2 separate regions of the Homo sapiens genome follow, and region 2 is linked to region 1. The links come from fine-mapping of genetic effects on gene expression. Tissue or cell type: whole blood. Region 1 holds a variant in brackets; the other region holds the start of a gene. All regions are shown on one strand. Distances are from middle to middle.

What was found. PIP is the estimated chance that this variant, and not a neighbour inherited with it, causes the effect.
Region 2: PDE1B starts here. The variant in region 1 is fine-mapped to the expression of PDE1B in whole blood (TOPMed, PIP above 0.99).

The regions. Positions count from the first base shown.
Region 1 is chr12:54,494,080-54,502,185 of GRCh38, reverse strand. NCKAP1L (NCK associated protein 1 like) reads right to left here and starts at 4,434. Exons shown (of 31, transcript NM_005337.5): 1 at 4,295-4,434; 2 at 2,721-2,831; 3 at 1,561-1,653. The coding sequence starts at 4,396. RefSeq lists enhancers at 4,243-4,302, 4,413-4,472. The variant T/A (reference allele first, on the strand shown) is at 4,082.
Region 2 is chr12:54,545,023-54,553,125 of GRCh38, reverse strand. PDE1B (phosphodiesterase 1B) reads right to left here and starts at 3,525. Exons shown (of 16, transcript NM_000924.4): 1 at 3,354-3,525; 2 at 3,141-3,266. The coding sequence starts at 3,253. It overlaps NCKAP1L (NCK associated protein 1 like), which reads right to left. Exons shown (of 31, transcript NM_005337.5): 31 at 4,883-8,103. RefSeq lists enhancers at 2,347-2,975, 6,123-6,667 and a silencer at 3,541-3,600.

The sequences.
Region 1 (8,106 bases):
AATCTGCAAACATATGAAATTCAAAACACTCTGGTCTCAAGAATTTTCCATAAGGAATACTCAACCTGTATAGAGAACTCCTAAGTCTCAACACACACAAAAAATCCAATTCAAAAATGGTCAAAGAATGAAACAGACATTTCTTCAAAGAAGATATATAAATGGCCAATAAGCCTATGAAAAATGCTCATTATCACTAATCATTAGCAAAAATTCAAATAAAAACTTAGATGAGATAATACCTCACACCCACTGGGATGGCTACTGTCAAAAAAACGAAATAACAATTGTTGGCGAGGATGTGGAGGAATTATAGCCCTTATGCACCGTTGGTGAGAATGTAAAAGAGTACAGCCACTGTGGAAAACAGTATAGCAGTTCCTCAAAAAGTTAAAAATAGGCCGGCACAGTCCAGCCTTTGGGAGGCCGAGGTGGGTGGATAGCTTGAGCCCAGGAGTTTGAGACCACCCTGGCCAACATGGGGATACCCCATCTCTACAAAAAATATAAAAACTTAGCCAGGTGTGGTGGCATGTGCCTTTAGCCCCAGCTATTCAAGAGGCTGAGGTGGGAGGATCACCTGAGCCTAGGAGGTCGAGGCAGCAGTGAGCTGTGATTGCACCACTACACTCCAGCCTGGGCAACAGAGTGAGACCCTAACTCAAAAAAAAAAAAGTTAATAATAGAATTATCATATGATCCAGCATTTCCACTTTCATGTTTATAATCAAAAGAATTGAAAGTAGGGTTTTGAAGATATATTTGTACACCCACGTTCATAGCAGCATCATTTACAATAGCTAAAACTTGGAAGCAACCTAAGTGTCCATCAACATACGATCGGATAAGCAAAATGTAGTATAATCATACAATGGAATATTATTTAGCTTAAAAAGGAAATTCTACAATATGCTACAACAGGGATGAACCTTAAGGACATTAGGCTGATGAAATAAGCCAGCCACAAAAAGACAAATGCTTTATGATTCTACTTATATAAGGTACTTAGAATAGTCAAAATCACAAAAACAAAGTAGAATTGTGATGGCAAGGGGCTGGAAAGAAAGGGAAATGGGGAATTATTGCATAAAGGGTAGAGAGTTTCAGGTTTACAAGGTGAAAAGATGGTTGCATTATTAATATACTTAGTACCACTGAACTGTATACTTAAAAATGGTTAAGACAGTAAATTTTATGTTATGTGTATTTTACCATAATTTTTAAAATAGAAAAAACATGCATAGCCTACTAAATTGAAGCCAGTCATAATCAGTCCCCAAAGGTAGTTATTTTTAACAGTTTAATGTAAAATAGTCCAGATCTTTCCTAGATATTTACTAAATACATATACATACATACTCTTTTAAAATAGAAATGTGATGTATCATATACTATTTTGAAATTTGCTTTCATTTAACAATACAACTTAGATATCCTTCCATATTAGTACATCTCTCTCATTTTTTCAAGAACTTGTTTTAAGCAAATACATGAACATCTAAAGAAAGAATAGCCTCTGAAAGACCTTGCCTACATTGGAAACGGCTCAAGAGAGCTCACCCGAAATTCCATGACATCCACAAATGACTGGTAGTAGTTGGTGAGGAATCTAATTATCTCGGCTTTTTCACGATGTACTGGTCCTAAATGTTGCTGAGAGAAACACAAAACAAAACAATAAAAAAGTGCAAAATAAGACAATTGATCCAAATAACTCAAGAAGAACAGTGGTTATACCTAAAACATTCTTAAAGAGGGTTGAGGCCGGGCGCAGTGGCTCACACCTGTAATCCCAGCACTTTGGGAGGCCGAGGCAGGCGGATCACCTGAGGTCAGGGGTTCAAGACCAGCCTGGCCAACCTGGTGAAACCCCGTCTCTATTAAAAATACAAAAATTAGCTGGGCGTGGTGGCGGGCGCCTGTAATGCCAGCTACTCGAGAGGCTGAGTCAGAAGAATCACTTGAACCTGGGAAGCAGAGGTTGCAGTGAGCCAAGATTGTGCTACTGCACTCCAGCCTGGGTGACAGAGCAAGACTCCATCTCAAAAAAAAAAAAAAAGAAAAGAAAAGAAAAAGAAAGAGAGTTGAAATATACTGACAGAGGAAGTTAGAAACGCTTCAGTGCTCTGAAGGTCTTTAAACAAAGGAGATTGTCTATCTAGGTAGAATGGTTGCATGTGATCCTGACTAGATACAGAGGGCTAAATGAGAGGAAATTTTAAGCACCCTTTCAGATGAACAGATATACTATTTATATCAAAGTCAAAAGAAACAGAATTCAAAGATGCTACAAAGATGGGTGAAAAATCTAGGGTTAACATTTAATAAGGGAAAAGTAGAGATATCCCATTAGATGCAGAAATCTAAGACAAACAGCAAGGAAACAGTGAGTGGGAAACAGAAACAATAAAATACATGTACCCTGCTGGGTTGATAGAGCTGTCTTGTACAAAAACAATGTTTTCCCATGAATCTTGCAATGGAAAAGGGGTGATGATTCGCTCCAGCTTATGCTGGAAGAATCCCATCTTATCTCAAAATGCTCAAGACTTAAAGCTCTACAACAACCTGAAGCCCTGTGGTTGAGCCTTGGAAAACTATTAATAAAAAAAGACTACTCCATCCCCTGCCAAGTTTGAAGAGAGGCATCAAAAGAGGAGAATTTCAGCCATTCAAGCAGAGAATTATTCAGAGAAAGGAGAGAAGGACCAAGTTCTCACCGTGCTGTTTCGGACATCTATGTTGGGAAATTTCTTGTTGATATACTTGAGAGATGGTTCCATGGACTTTTCCAGTAAGAAAGGTGGCTTAGATTTGGGGTCTGAACAAGTCTGCAGAGAGAAACCATATATATTTCAACCCTTTCTCCTCCTCCTCAGAAACATACCTCTTCTTGCAACATTCATTCTCATAATCTGTCTTAGGAAAAGGCAACCTGGGAACTAATTTAAAAAGCATGAGAGGCTGGGCGCAGCGGCTCACACCTGTAATCCCAGCACTTCGGGAGGCCGAGGCAGGCAGATCACAAGGTCAGAAGTTCGAGACCAGCCTGGCCAACATGGTGAAACCCCGTCTCTACTAAAAATACAAAAATTAGCTGGGCATGGTGGTGCACAACTGTAGTCCCAGGTACTTGGGAGGCTGAGGCAGGAGAATCGCTTGAACCCGGGAGGCGGAGGTTGCAGTGAGCCAAGATCGTGCCACTGCACTCCAGCCTGGGCGACAGAGCGAGACTCCGAAAATAAATAAATAAATAAATAAATAAATAAATATAAAAATAAAAAGCATAAGAGTAGGTCAAGAAAAAATTCCAAGACATTAAGCCAAGTATCTAAGAGCGAAATAACAACCTAGGCATTTTGTCTTGATGGGTAGAGTTTAATGCCTGCTTGGCCCCAGCACAAAGAGGAAGCTGTTTCCCCGCCCCTCAACTGAAGCCGGAAGGAACAAGAAAAGCAGCTGCTCAGGAGTTAGACTTTGTACAAGATTCAGTGTCACAATTTTGTTCACTATGTAAGTATCTTATCCCAAAGGGCATTTACAGGATTCATGGTGACAGAGAAACCGTGTTCCTGGTGATTTGTTTTATTACAAAAAACACAAAAGCTCCCTCCCCCAAAGTCCCCTATTTTCTATGCCAGGAACTCCCCATAAACACCCCTGTCTTTATCTCTTTACTTCCTATGGTTTGCCCAGCCCCTAGCCCACCTCTTGTCACTAGCTTCTTTCAATTCCTCAGTTCCTATTCTAAACACACACACACACACACACACACACACACACACAACCACCACAGCATGAACTACCCCAGGAGCAGCTCAGAAGACACCTACCCTTTTTAATCTAAATACCTAATTATCTATTTTTTTTCCTTTTAGGGAAGCACTTCCACAGAAAAGTTTTTGCCAGAGACCCAGCTTCAGATCTCTTCAGAGTGTAGAGGATCAACAATAAATAATAAAACCCAGAAGGTTGGACCCCAGACCTTTATCCAAGTCACTTGGAATACCACTGTTGTTTCCCCATCCCCACCCTCACCCCCATCCCCAGAGGAAAGCAGATGCCATCGTTGGGGCAAGAA[T/A]CATATCTAGAAAGGGGAAGCCTTGAAAAGAAGCCTCCACTTCTGCCTTCCTGAACTGGCTGGCCTGTATAATCTGAGTGATTATGTAGATTATAGTCAGTGGAAAAGCAGTGGAAAAAAAGGTGGGAGTCTAACTGCTGCACCTGCCGCCTCAGGGTTCCCTGCCCTATTATTGTTGGAATAATCAGTACTAGTCCCATTGTTCATGCTTACCTTCTTGATGTTATACATACGGATGAGAACCCCCTGACCGCGATCATTCAGGATAGTGAGCTTCTCTGCTAATTTATGCTGGTAAGCAGATGTCAAAGACATGATGGCCACTGAGAGAGGAGCACCAGACAGCAATGTCTGATCTCCCCAAACACTTTCAGCTTAGATGGTGACACCCTCTGGCGGAGGGACCCAGCCTGGTTGGTGCACTGGTCTTCTGTTGCCTCTGCAATTGGCTCATGGGTGAAATCAGTCATTATGGCTCACAGGCCCTCAGAGCCTTCTTGTGCTTCCTCTTGCACACTCAGCAGGGGAGACTTCCTCTTTCTGGCTGTGCAGCACTTTTGGTAAGGCTATGAAGTGGGTGGAGCTGAGGAGAAGGACAGGCTTTCAAGGCTCTTCACAGACTGCACCAACCTTTTTGGTCTTATGCCCCCATAAGTGTCCTAGACAAAGCTGGGCGTGGTGGCTCACACCTGTAATCCCAGCACTTTGGGAGGAAAAGGTGGGAAGATCCATTGAGCTCAGGAGTTCCAGACCAGCCTGGGCAACATAGCAAGACCCCATCTCTATAAAAAATAAAAATTAAAAGCTGTAAGCTAGATAAACAAGTATCTACCACCCCACCCCTGTACACCTCTATATTTTCCTTCTTTTATATCCAAGAATGCCTATGAACCTTTGGCCTCATCATGTTTTAGTACCCAGATCAAATCCCATCTTCTCCTAAAGACCCCATCAATGTCAAATATTATATTGTATTATATTTTATATTGTCAAATACATATATTCCTTGTTATATGTTTATAGTGTACGTTGTATCTCCCCCAACTACAGCATAAGCTCCTTAATGACAGGAATTGTACCTAATACTTTTTTTTCTTTTTTTTTTTTTTTTTGAAACAGAGTTCCACTCTTGTTGCCCAGGCTGGAGTGCAATGGCATGATCTCTGCTCACTACAACCTCCACCTCCTGGGCTCAAGCAATTCTCCAGCCTCAGCCTCTGGAGTAGCTGTGGTTACAGGTGCCCACCACCACGCCTTGCTAATTTTTGTATTTTTAGTAGACATGGGGTTTCACCGTGTTGGCCAGGCTGCTCTCGAACTCCTGACCTCAGGTGATTTACCCGCCACAGCCTCCCAAAGTACTGGAATTACAGGCATGAGCCACCACACCCGGCCTCTAATACTTTTTTATATTTCTCACAATGCTCTACTACAGTGCATTGTACTTCTACAGTACATAATAATTCTCAAAGTAGTTCTCAAGAAGTACATAGTAATTCTCAAAATGTGATCCAGCAGCATCAGCATCACCTGGAAACTTGTTAGAGATGCAAATTCTTAGGACCCGCCCCAGACCACTGAATCCAAAATTCTGGGGTGGGTCCAGGCACTCTGTGTTTTAACAAACCCTCCAGGTGATTCCAATGCACACTCAAGTTTGAGAACCAGTGCTCTAGTACCATGGTATTTATGGATGCTTGAGAAACAGATCAATCCCTGTCCTCTGAGATTAGCATTGGTAGGTAGGCGAGTCTGTTGTGGGGCCTAGAAGTCTGTACTTATATAAGCACTGTTGTAGGAGGTTTTGGTACAAATATTCCATTCTGAAAAACACTGATCTAGAACAATACCTCTTGGACACAGTAGTCACTCAATAAATATGCTGGTTTATTTGTTGAATTATTAAGACTAAATTAGGAAATAGGCCCCATGAAGAAGAACCAAATTAATCAAGATTAAAAAGAGGAAATTAGTAATCACCCTTAAATCTTAGAGACTTGAATGAATTTTAGCATTAAAATATTCTTGCCATTCCAATGAGGCCTTAACTCCGTAACTCAAGAAAATTTTCAACTCTATTTCAACTTTCTTTCAAGACACAAAGCAAAAGGTCCTAGGAAAAATTATAAATCAAAAAGAGTTCTCTTCATTTCCACCACCTTGCCAATTCCTTTTCTCAGGTTTTTAATCATTCCCATTTTCCGTATCCAGAGTTCCCATTGTCCCAATAAATTCTAGGGAGTGGGAGAAGAGAGACAAGGCTGATCAGCATTATTACTTAAGAAGTTGGGGCCAGGTGAAGTGGCTCATGCTTATAATCCCAGCACTTTGGGAGGCAAAGGTAGAAGGATTGCTTGAAGCCAGGAGTTCAAGACCAGCCTAGGCAACATTGTGAGACCTTCCCCCACCCCTCTACAGATAAAATAAAATAAATTAGCCTGGTGTGGTGGTACATGGCTGTAGGCCCAGCTCCTCAGGAGGCTGAGGTGGGATGGTCGCTTGAGCCCAGGAGTTCAACACCGCACTCCAGCCTGGTCGATAGAGCAAGACTATGTCTCTAAATAAATAAATAAATAAATAAATAAATAAATAAAGGCAAGAAAGAAAAAAAAACTTGAGTACTGTGTTCACTATTTGGGCATGGGTGATGGGTTCATTAGAAGCCCAAATCTCAGCATCACACAATATACCCATGTAACAAACCTGCATGTGTATCCCCTGAATCTAAATGTTTTTTAATTTTAAAAAGAAACTTAACATCCATGCTCCAAAGAGAATGTATTTTTAAAAGAAGCAGCAAGATGGCAACACTTAACGCATGAAATTTCAAATATCTCTAAGGTAGAATTTGCATTTTAGGAATATAGAATCTGCCTTCCATTTTATTTACTAGACTGGGTCCCTAGAAAGCTATGGGCTCGAGGTAATGTGATATTGGTCATGAAGATTTGAATTACCTGCTGTTATCAAAGAAACCCAGGTTTTACTAAAGCAATTTGTAGGATTTCTACTGGTCTTTTACCTTTACCAAGGAGAATATGGAGCAGACAGTAAGAGGCCAACATCCAGGAAGCTTAGCAGCAGCATAGCACCGGTCTTCGTGGGGTTAGTGTAATTCTAGCGGCTCTTTCTTGCATTCCTTTTTTTTTTTTTTTTTTTTTTCCTGAGACAAGCTCTCGCTCTGTTGCCCAGGCTTGAGTGCAGTAGTGCTATCATGGCTCACTGCAACCTTGACCTCCCAGGCTCAAGAGATCCTCTCACTTCAGCCTCCTGAGTAGCTGGGACTTCAGGTGCAGGCCACCACGTCTGGCTAATTTTTGTATTTTTTGTGAGCCACCTCACTTGAATTTCTTGTCTTTATCCTGAAAGTGTGGTTGAAGACTCTGCATCCCAAGCTAATCTTGTTTCCTGCTCCTTAATGGATACTCCCCAACTTGGTGGGGACCATCTTCTCAGCCTGCTGTGAATGTGCTATGTTCATGTCTGCCTCTCTGACTTCACTTACGCATGCTTTCCTTCTTGCTTACCCAAATCCTAGTCAATCTTCAGGATCTAGCTCAATAGTCCCAAGTCTAGGTTTTGCCGAACTCCCACAACACTTGGTCTATACCACATACTTTACATCTAAATCAGGTTCTGTCCTTAACTGCCCATTTCATATAATACTGCCTAGCCAGCTGAACCAAAAGATTGTTGAAACCTGGAAACACTTATTCCCCTGTACTTGGTATATGCGAAAAGCCTACCTGCTGTTATCAGACAGAATTTGGCTCAAGTGTAGTTGAGTACAGTGGGCTGAGCCTTATGATTTAGTGACCGAGAGCCCAGGTTCTGGAACCAGATATCTTGAGTTCACATCCTATTTATCCTGTCTGTAAAATAAAGATGATATTGATAATACTTCCTATTTCACGGAGCTATTGTGCATATTTTAAAAGTTATAGCCTAGTTACTTACTCTGTACATGTAAAGCATTTGAAGTACTATAAGCACTCAAGCTTACATGTATTACCTCAATTAATATT
Region 2 (8,103 bases), 51 kb before region 1:
TTGATGGAGTTGAAGCAGGTTACAAGCTCTGTAGGAAGAGGGACTATGTCTGTTTTGTCCACCACCGACTGTATTCTCAGCATCCAGCATGCCACCTGGTCCATAGAAGGCACTCAAGAAATAGTTGTTGGATAAATAAATGAGCTGAGGATGGCAAACCAATGTCTGCTCATCGTTTTTCTTGAATCACAAAAGACACAGAAAATCATTTCTATCTCTTCTGGTCTTCTTCCCATTCCCTAAAGCCCTCTGATCTCAGAGAAGGGTGGACAGCCAAGTCAAATACTTCCTCTTAGGGTTACAGATGCTGAAAATCATCCTGGCCAACTCATCATCTCCAGATGGCCTCTTTCACCCTCTCTCATGCCTCAGTTTATGAGTTTGCTTAATTAGAGAAATTGTTCTGAAAATAGGGGTAAAATCACACAGTTAAGAGATTCTCTTCAGCTCATATGATACAGATTAGATTCTGAATTTATTTTTGACAGGGTCTTAGTGTGGGAAACAGAATTCTTGGATGCTCTTCCCAACAAAAAATTGCCCTGCACTATTATATTAGTGTGGGCTTTTTATCCAGAGTCAAAAACACCAGGCCTAGTCTCCCTGAAGAAAGTCTGGATGTCCTGATTAGAAATTAAAAGGGTAGAAGGGGGGGAATAGGATGTGTTGAGTAGAAGAATCTAGATAGATAGTTAGATAAATACATACAAGTATATATGCCATGTTTCCATTTCCAAGCAGTACCCAGTCCTAAGATAATCATGTCTATTTCCTATTTCCAGACTTAGCAACCCCTTCCCACCTTGACCAAAGGGGCAGGGGGATCTTTATTTCCACTTAAAAGGGGGAACATCTCCTTTCTCACCTATTCAGAAACCATCCCATTGAGAGGGTTGGGAAACTCCCACCTCTTACCCAGCAAAGCCCTAAATCCTTTTATTTCCCTTCATCTGATAGTCAAAGCCTCCCCAATATTCAAAAAGGCAAAATCCAGTAGGCCATCAACATAGATCAAGTTGGGATCTACCTTGATTTCAAGGTCTTTCTCTGCTTTAAGGACGTAAGACTGGGAATCTATTCCTGCCAATTAATAATCCGGAGATTGTACTTTTTTGGGTAAGTTATATTACATGTAGCTAGCTTTATTTTTTACTTGTAAATTTATTGTACAAAGCTAGCATTCTTAAGGACCAGACTGCTGAAGTGAGTGAAGACCAGAATGATCTAATCAATAAGAATAGGGATCCTTGTCCACCCTAATCTCATGTAAGGACATCTCAGCTAAGGCACTCTGGAGAGACAGATGCCTCTACTCCCTTCTCTTCCCAGGTTTCATGCCTCCTTCTGGGAATCCTCTTCTCTCACCACTGAGCACTTCTCACACTAAAGGAAGAAACAACAATTCATTTTCAGGAAAGGCTTTTGGTTAGAAATGTGTGGGAGATAGTGAAACTAGTAATACCCACTCTTTCGCAGGGCCCTGTTACCTGGAATACAGGCAAGGTAAGTATGATGAGCCACTAGTGTTAGGGGAGCCATCCTGAATTCTCCCATTTATGGACCTGGGGCCCTTCTTTACCTTTCAACTACTTCCTTATCTGCCCCTTTCCCCAGCTCATTTACCATTAACGCAGCGTCATTTTCTATCAAGAATCACACAGTGCTCCTCCCAACAAAAATCAGTTCAATCTGGTTTTCCATTTCTTCATCCCAGAACTCATTCCAAGGCTGTGCTTCATAGAGCCCAGCAAATTGGATTGGCCAGAGGCAGCCAAGGAGGAGGACTGAGAAGTACATTTGGATTCCAAGCCTTGTTGCCCACTATGCCTCAGTTCTCCCTAACGCCTCTCCAAGTAGCTAGTGTATAAATCAGACCCATCTGCCATAAAAAGGTGTCATCTTATCACCATAGGTGAAGTATTTAAAGAACAATACAACATAAGCATCTATCCATCCCCTACCCCCATCTCTCCCTCTCCCAGAACCCAGAAATAGAAAGCTTCGGTGCTCACTATGGAGAACATTGAGGAGGAACTGGGTTCAGGGCTATGTTTACTGTGTTTCCTCTCTAAACATCCATAGTCTCCTATCTGTTTCCTCTTTCCTGGGGCCATGGATTCATCTCGGAGAGAGGGACATCTTCTCTTGTTCCCTGATTAAGAATCAACAGACTGCGGAGATTTCCCAATGGCAGCAGCTGACTGGGAGATAAACATGGTGCATGGCTTGTCTTTGACCCAATCCTCTTTTTTTTCTAAGGAGCAGGGGAAAAGTTCCTTTCCTCCCCTGGGACTGGAGTATCAGATACCTGAGTTCTTCCTTCCCCCATTTATTCCTCCCCACATGCCCTGGTACTGCAACAATAGGAAAAGATGCCCAAATGTGCTTGGAGATCCTGGAAGACCCTATATAAACAAAAAGCCTCTGATTAAGCCAGTTACCTTGCCTTTGTCAATCAATATTTCTTCACCATCATCACCTCCTTCAGCTTCCAGGTGGGGGCTCCAACCCCCCCTCCAGATTCCACGTGGGTCCCCTCATCATTAATACATAGAGTGAGTTTCCAGGCCCCAAGAGATGAGCAGCTCAGGCATGGGGTAACCCCCACCCCACTTCCTGTGCATGAGGCAGAAACTACCAATCCCAACTGAGATACATATGACCCACAGGTTGGCACAAGTATTCCCATGCAGTAGATCTACAGCTGTGTGCAATCACTCCACATACCTCTGTGACCCACGCTCACTCATGCACACACATGTCATGTGGCTCACATCTGCACAACTCTGCACATGGATATGTGTGAGTCAGCCTGGCACCTCTACTGCCCTCCTGCAGCCCTGCCACACTGCATATACTGTGCTGCCTCTAGGCGCTGCGTGTGTCAGCCTGGGGTCCACAGGCACAGGCACATCGTTACCTTTGCAACTCCTAAGCCCGCTCCAACTGGCCAGCTTGCTCCGCACATGCCTTGCACATGTGGCCTGGCCACGCGTGTCAGGGCCGTGCTTCCTCGCACCTGCCAACATCTGTGCCAAAGAGAATCTACCAGCCCACAGCCCTGCTCCAGTTATCCCCCCTCCTCCTCCCGCTCAGGCTCCCTAAGGTCCCTTCCCCCCATTCCCGGGCCGGGGACTTACAGAGACCGAAGCTTAATCCACATCTTCTTGCTGGGGGCTGACTTCAGCTCCAGGGGTGACGGGCAATCCGACTCCTCCAGCATCTCCGGAGGACTGCGGGGGGACAGCTCCATGCTCAGCCACGGTCTACGGAACAGAAGGAGGAGACAGCACCTCGGCTCAGCTTCAGCCCCAGCCGAGAGACCCTCACCCCCCATCCCAGGCCCTTCCCACCTGCGGCTGGCGTGGACCAGCCAGGCCGGTGTCTCTAGGCTCGGCCCAAGCTGGCAGAGCTGCAGCTCCTGCGGCTCCTCCTCTCCCGCTGCCCAGCCGAGCTTTGGGCTCCCAGTCCAAGCTCTCCGCACCGCCGCTGCTGCTGCCGCTACCGCCGCCGCCGCCGCGCGCTGCCAGAGCCGCCTCCTCGCCTCTCTCCTCCTCCCCCGGCCGGGTTCCCCCCTCCCTCTGCTCTCCCTCCCTTCTCCTCAGCCTGCCCGCCAGTCTCTCACTCCTCACAGCCACTCCTCCCCCTCCCAAAGGAACGATTGGAAGCCGGGGGCACACACAGACAGAAGCGCCCAAGGGCGAGCGCACGCACACAGGCGCCGGGGACGAGTGGCTGCGTGTGCCCTGTACTGGCGGATGTGAGTGCGTGTTTACAGAGTGCAGCGGAGGCGGCGGGCTGGACTTCGGTGTGGGTGGTTGTGTGGGTTCTCTCCGTGTGTTTTGAGTTTCTGTGTATGTGGTTGTGGTTCCATGTATCCACGTGTGCCTAGCTGCCTGCGTGTCCCATGTCTGAGTGCGGGGTAGGGGATGAGCACACATCTTTCCCTGCTAGATCTGGACTCGGAACCCAGTCGGACCAGACCCCACCTGTGCTCCTGTCTTGGAAAAGTTCAGGGTGTGCCCTGAGCTGTGATGGCATCCCACACTTGGCCTCGGGTCCCTCAGCTTGATCTTCCCCACCTGTCTCCAAGACTGTGGCCTTCTCCATGGTACTTCTGCCTGCCCGCCTAGCAGATAGGAATTTCTTCCAAGTTCAAAGCTCTCCAGAGCAGGCATCTTTTTTTTTTTTTTTTTTTTTTTTTTTTTTTTTGAGAAGGAGTCTGTGTCGCCCAGGCTGCAGTGCAGTGGCGCGATCTCGGCTCACTGCAACCTCTGCCTCCCCAGTTCCAGCGATTCTCCTGCCTCAGCCTCCTGGAGTAGCTGGGACTACAGGCGCGGGCCACCACGCCGGCTAATTTTTGTATTTTTTAGTAGAGATGGGGTTTCACTATATTGGCCAGGCTGGTCTCCAACTCCTGACCTCGTGATCCGCCCACGTCGGCCTCCCAAAGTGGTGGGATTACAGGTGTGAGCCACCGCACCCAGCTTAACATCTTCTTCTTTGACTAGGTAATAACTCTACACAGCCAGGAAAGCATTCCTGATATCAAAACCCCTCCTGAAGCACTTCCAGCTCATTTTTTCTGTTCTGTCTTCAGAGAAAGAAATCTAGGAGCTAAAGGCCCAGCACAAAACAGCCTAGCTGGTTAATAAACATTTGTGGAAGGAGTGAACTGGAATTTGAACTCAAGACCTTGTAAAAGGGCAAAGCCTCCTCCATCCAACCGAGTCCTACCTAGGACTCTTGCAGGAACCACCTCTCTTGCTCCATATTGTTCTCTCCCTTAATGACCACCTGCTTTGGCATTGGGGAAACTCCTATGTCAACAGAAAGTGGAGATATATTCACTAACTACTGAATCCAAAACAGGCCACTAATCCAGGATCCCAGAATGTGAATTTTAATTTCAAAAAATTCTGGAGGTTGGAAGGAGGAGTGATCAGGAGAAGGTATTTACTCTGTTCTAAATACTGAGTGGAGGCTCCTCCTCTCCCAGTCAGAGAAGGAGAAAAGAAGTGAAATGGAAGGGCGAAGAAGCGGATGAACTGTCACAGCTAAGACTCCTAACATAAAAGAATTGCCAAGTTAGGTCAGCATTTAGATTCAGCAGAAGTATCAGCAGAACCAGCTCCCAGAAAGTACAGAGGCAGAAAGAGATGGCAGAGTCAGAGATGGAGAAAAAAGTGGAAATAATAAGGGACTTCCCACCCTCTGTCCATCTACCTTTAGCACACATCCCTTGGCTTTTCCCCAGACCCAGCCAAGAAATGGCTGCATCTGAGACCCTAGTCACACTCCTACACAGTCCATTTCTGAAAATTTGGGAGCAATCTCCTCCTTATCAACTGAAAATGAAATGGGCTGGAAACTACAAAAGAATTGCAAATTAGGATGGTGCTAAAGAGCTCTAATTAGTAAATTAGGATTAGAGCTAAGGAGTTTCCAAATTTAGGCAGGTCTTTAAACTAGAATAGGTGGGAAAGAGGCAAGACATACATCCAGAGGGCTCTCTCAACATTTCTTGTTAACACAGTGTCACATCCTGCTCTCCCAAGACCCCCTGCTCCTGATTCATTTTAAGGCTAATTCACACACACACACACACACACACACACACACGCACACACACACAAAGTTATTCGTGAAAGAGACATTAGAGTTCATCCACTCTAATTCCCTTCATTTAATAAATGGGAAAACTTCATAGACAACACAGTTTGATGGAAAAAGTAAAAATAAAAATAAATGAGAACTAAACTAACCCAGAAAAATTATAGGGTCTCACAGAGAGTAAGTGATAAAACCAGAGCCAAGTCTATCAGCCTTTTTCACTCTGTGGCTCCTTTCACTTTCTTTAGTCACCAGTCCTGGTGTTTAGTCTCAACCTCATTCCTCTTGTTGCAATACAATCCCATTTCTACCTTGCTGCGTCTCTAAACAGATAAGAATTGGGTATACTTGTTCCACTCTGAGGCTCAAAAGACAACTATTCTCTCCCTGTCTTTTCCTCTTGTCCTCATCCCCCACCTTTCCCAGGCTCCTTCTCATTCCTCTCCTTTTCAGCTTCTAAACTGCCCCCTACCCCTAGGAGGCTCTGCCTCCTCACTCCCCTAACCCCACAATCCTTTCCAACAAGCTTTGAGTTTGATAGAAACCAAAAATGATGCTTTGGCAGTAGGTGACGGATGGATGTGATCTGCCTCCTACGGGAATGCTATTTAAAGGGGCAGCCTCACAATCCTCTCCTTCCAAAGTGACAAGAGAAAAGTCTGCTCCTCAATCTCTCCAGAGCTGCAAACTCAGCTCAAGTTAACTTCTGACTTCCTCAACCTGCAACCTGGCCTGCTGCTCCTGCTTCCTATTCAAGTGGGAGGGAGAGTACTTGACAACTCATTGAGGTGTGGGGGCTGAAGGGGGATTCATCTTCATCTCCTTTGATGACAGGTACTTAGGAGAAGCAGGAGGCCCTGTGGGGAGGAGGACTGGAAGAACACTCTTCCCCCAACCGCGTGAGTGCATTTCAGCCATGTGCCAGCTTCTTCTCAAAGTCAAACTTTGTTGGAGAAGAACTAATATAAGCATGAGGACCTAAGGTTAAGGAAGCCTTGTCCCTAGCTGGGGGACACAGATATACCCTCCCTCCCTCCTGGATCCTGGTATTCACAGCACAGTTGTTCCCTTCCTGCAAAGCAAAGTGCTACAGGGCATCATCCCCTTGGCCAGGCCCTGGACCTTCTGCATTTTTTTTTTTTTTTTTTTTTGTGAGACAGGATCTTGCTCTGTCACCCAGACTGGAGTGCAATGGCATCATCTTCGCTCACTGCAACCTCTGCCTCCCGGACTCAAGCGATCCTCCCCACCTCAGCCTTCCAAGTAGCTAGGACTACAGGCAGGAACTACTACGCCCAGCTAATTTTCGTATTTTTTTGTAGAGACGGAGTTCGCCATGTTGACCAGGCTGGTCTTAACCTCCTTAGCTCAAGAGATCCACTGGCCTCAGCCTCCCAAAGTGTTGGGATTACAGACAACAGCCACCATGCCCAGCTAATTTTTTGTATTTTTGGAGAGACAGGGTTTCACTGTGTTGCCCAGAGTGGTCTCAAACTCCTGAGTTCAAGCGATCCGCCTGCCTCCCAAAGTGCTGGGATTACAGGGGTGAGCCACCACACCCAGTTCCTTCTGCACTTTGAAGCTGGCCCACCTGCCAACTGGATTGAACACCATGGCAGGGGAGGCAGTGTTTCTACTGTCCAAACAAAAGGGGGCACCTATGCAAGTATCTTGCCCCAGGCCTTGTGGGAGGCATAATTCCATCTCATTGCTGCAAGCAAGTTAATGGAGATGTTAATAAAAACACTACATTAATGAAAATGCTGAGGCTAGAACCTATTCTGTGCCTGTAAGACAAAACAATTGGGGTGAGATTTCTGATATCCATTCTTTAGTTCCTTTGGGCCTAAGTAAAGCAAACTTACAACCTGGGACACAACTTATTTTTTCCCAGGTTGTAAGAGGACAGAGACCCTCCTGGTAAAGGAAGCAAATTGCCTGAAATGCTGATGGGTCCTGTTACTTCTCTGTCCCTTCACCTCTGGACATTCACTTTTTGCTTCCGGTAGTAAAGGCCATCATGTCCTCACCTTCTCCAATTTGCTCCTTCTAAGGTCTCTGGATTCTAAAACCCAAGTCTTCCCTTGTGAAGAGGCAGACCGGGCAAGTAGAAAAGGTCTAGGACTGAACATCAGACTTGGGTCCCAGTTCTAGTTCTACTGCTAAACATGTGACCTTCATTAAGTCATTTAATATTTCTAAATCTGTTTTCTGACCTGAAATAGGAAAGCCTTCCCTGGCTACCTTGCAGAATTGCTATAAGGATGTGAAAGCACTTTGAAAAAGTATAAGTGGTAGAGAAATATGTGTGTATAATTATATGTTTACAAAAAGATATATCAAATGACAAAATTTTAGAAATAGAGAATATATCTGTGTTACCAGGAGCTAGAGATGGGGAAGGGGGTTGTGGGAGGAGAAAATTGCTATAAAATTGCTATAAAAGAGCAATGCGAGGGATCCTTGTGGTGATGGAACTGTTCTGTATCT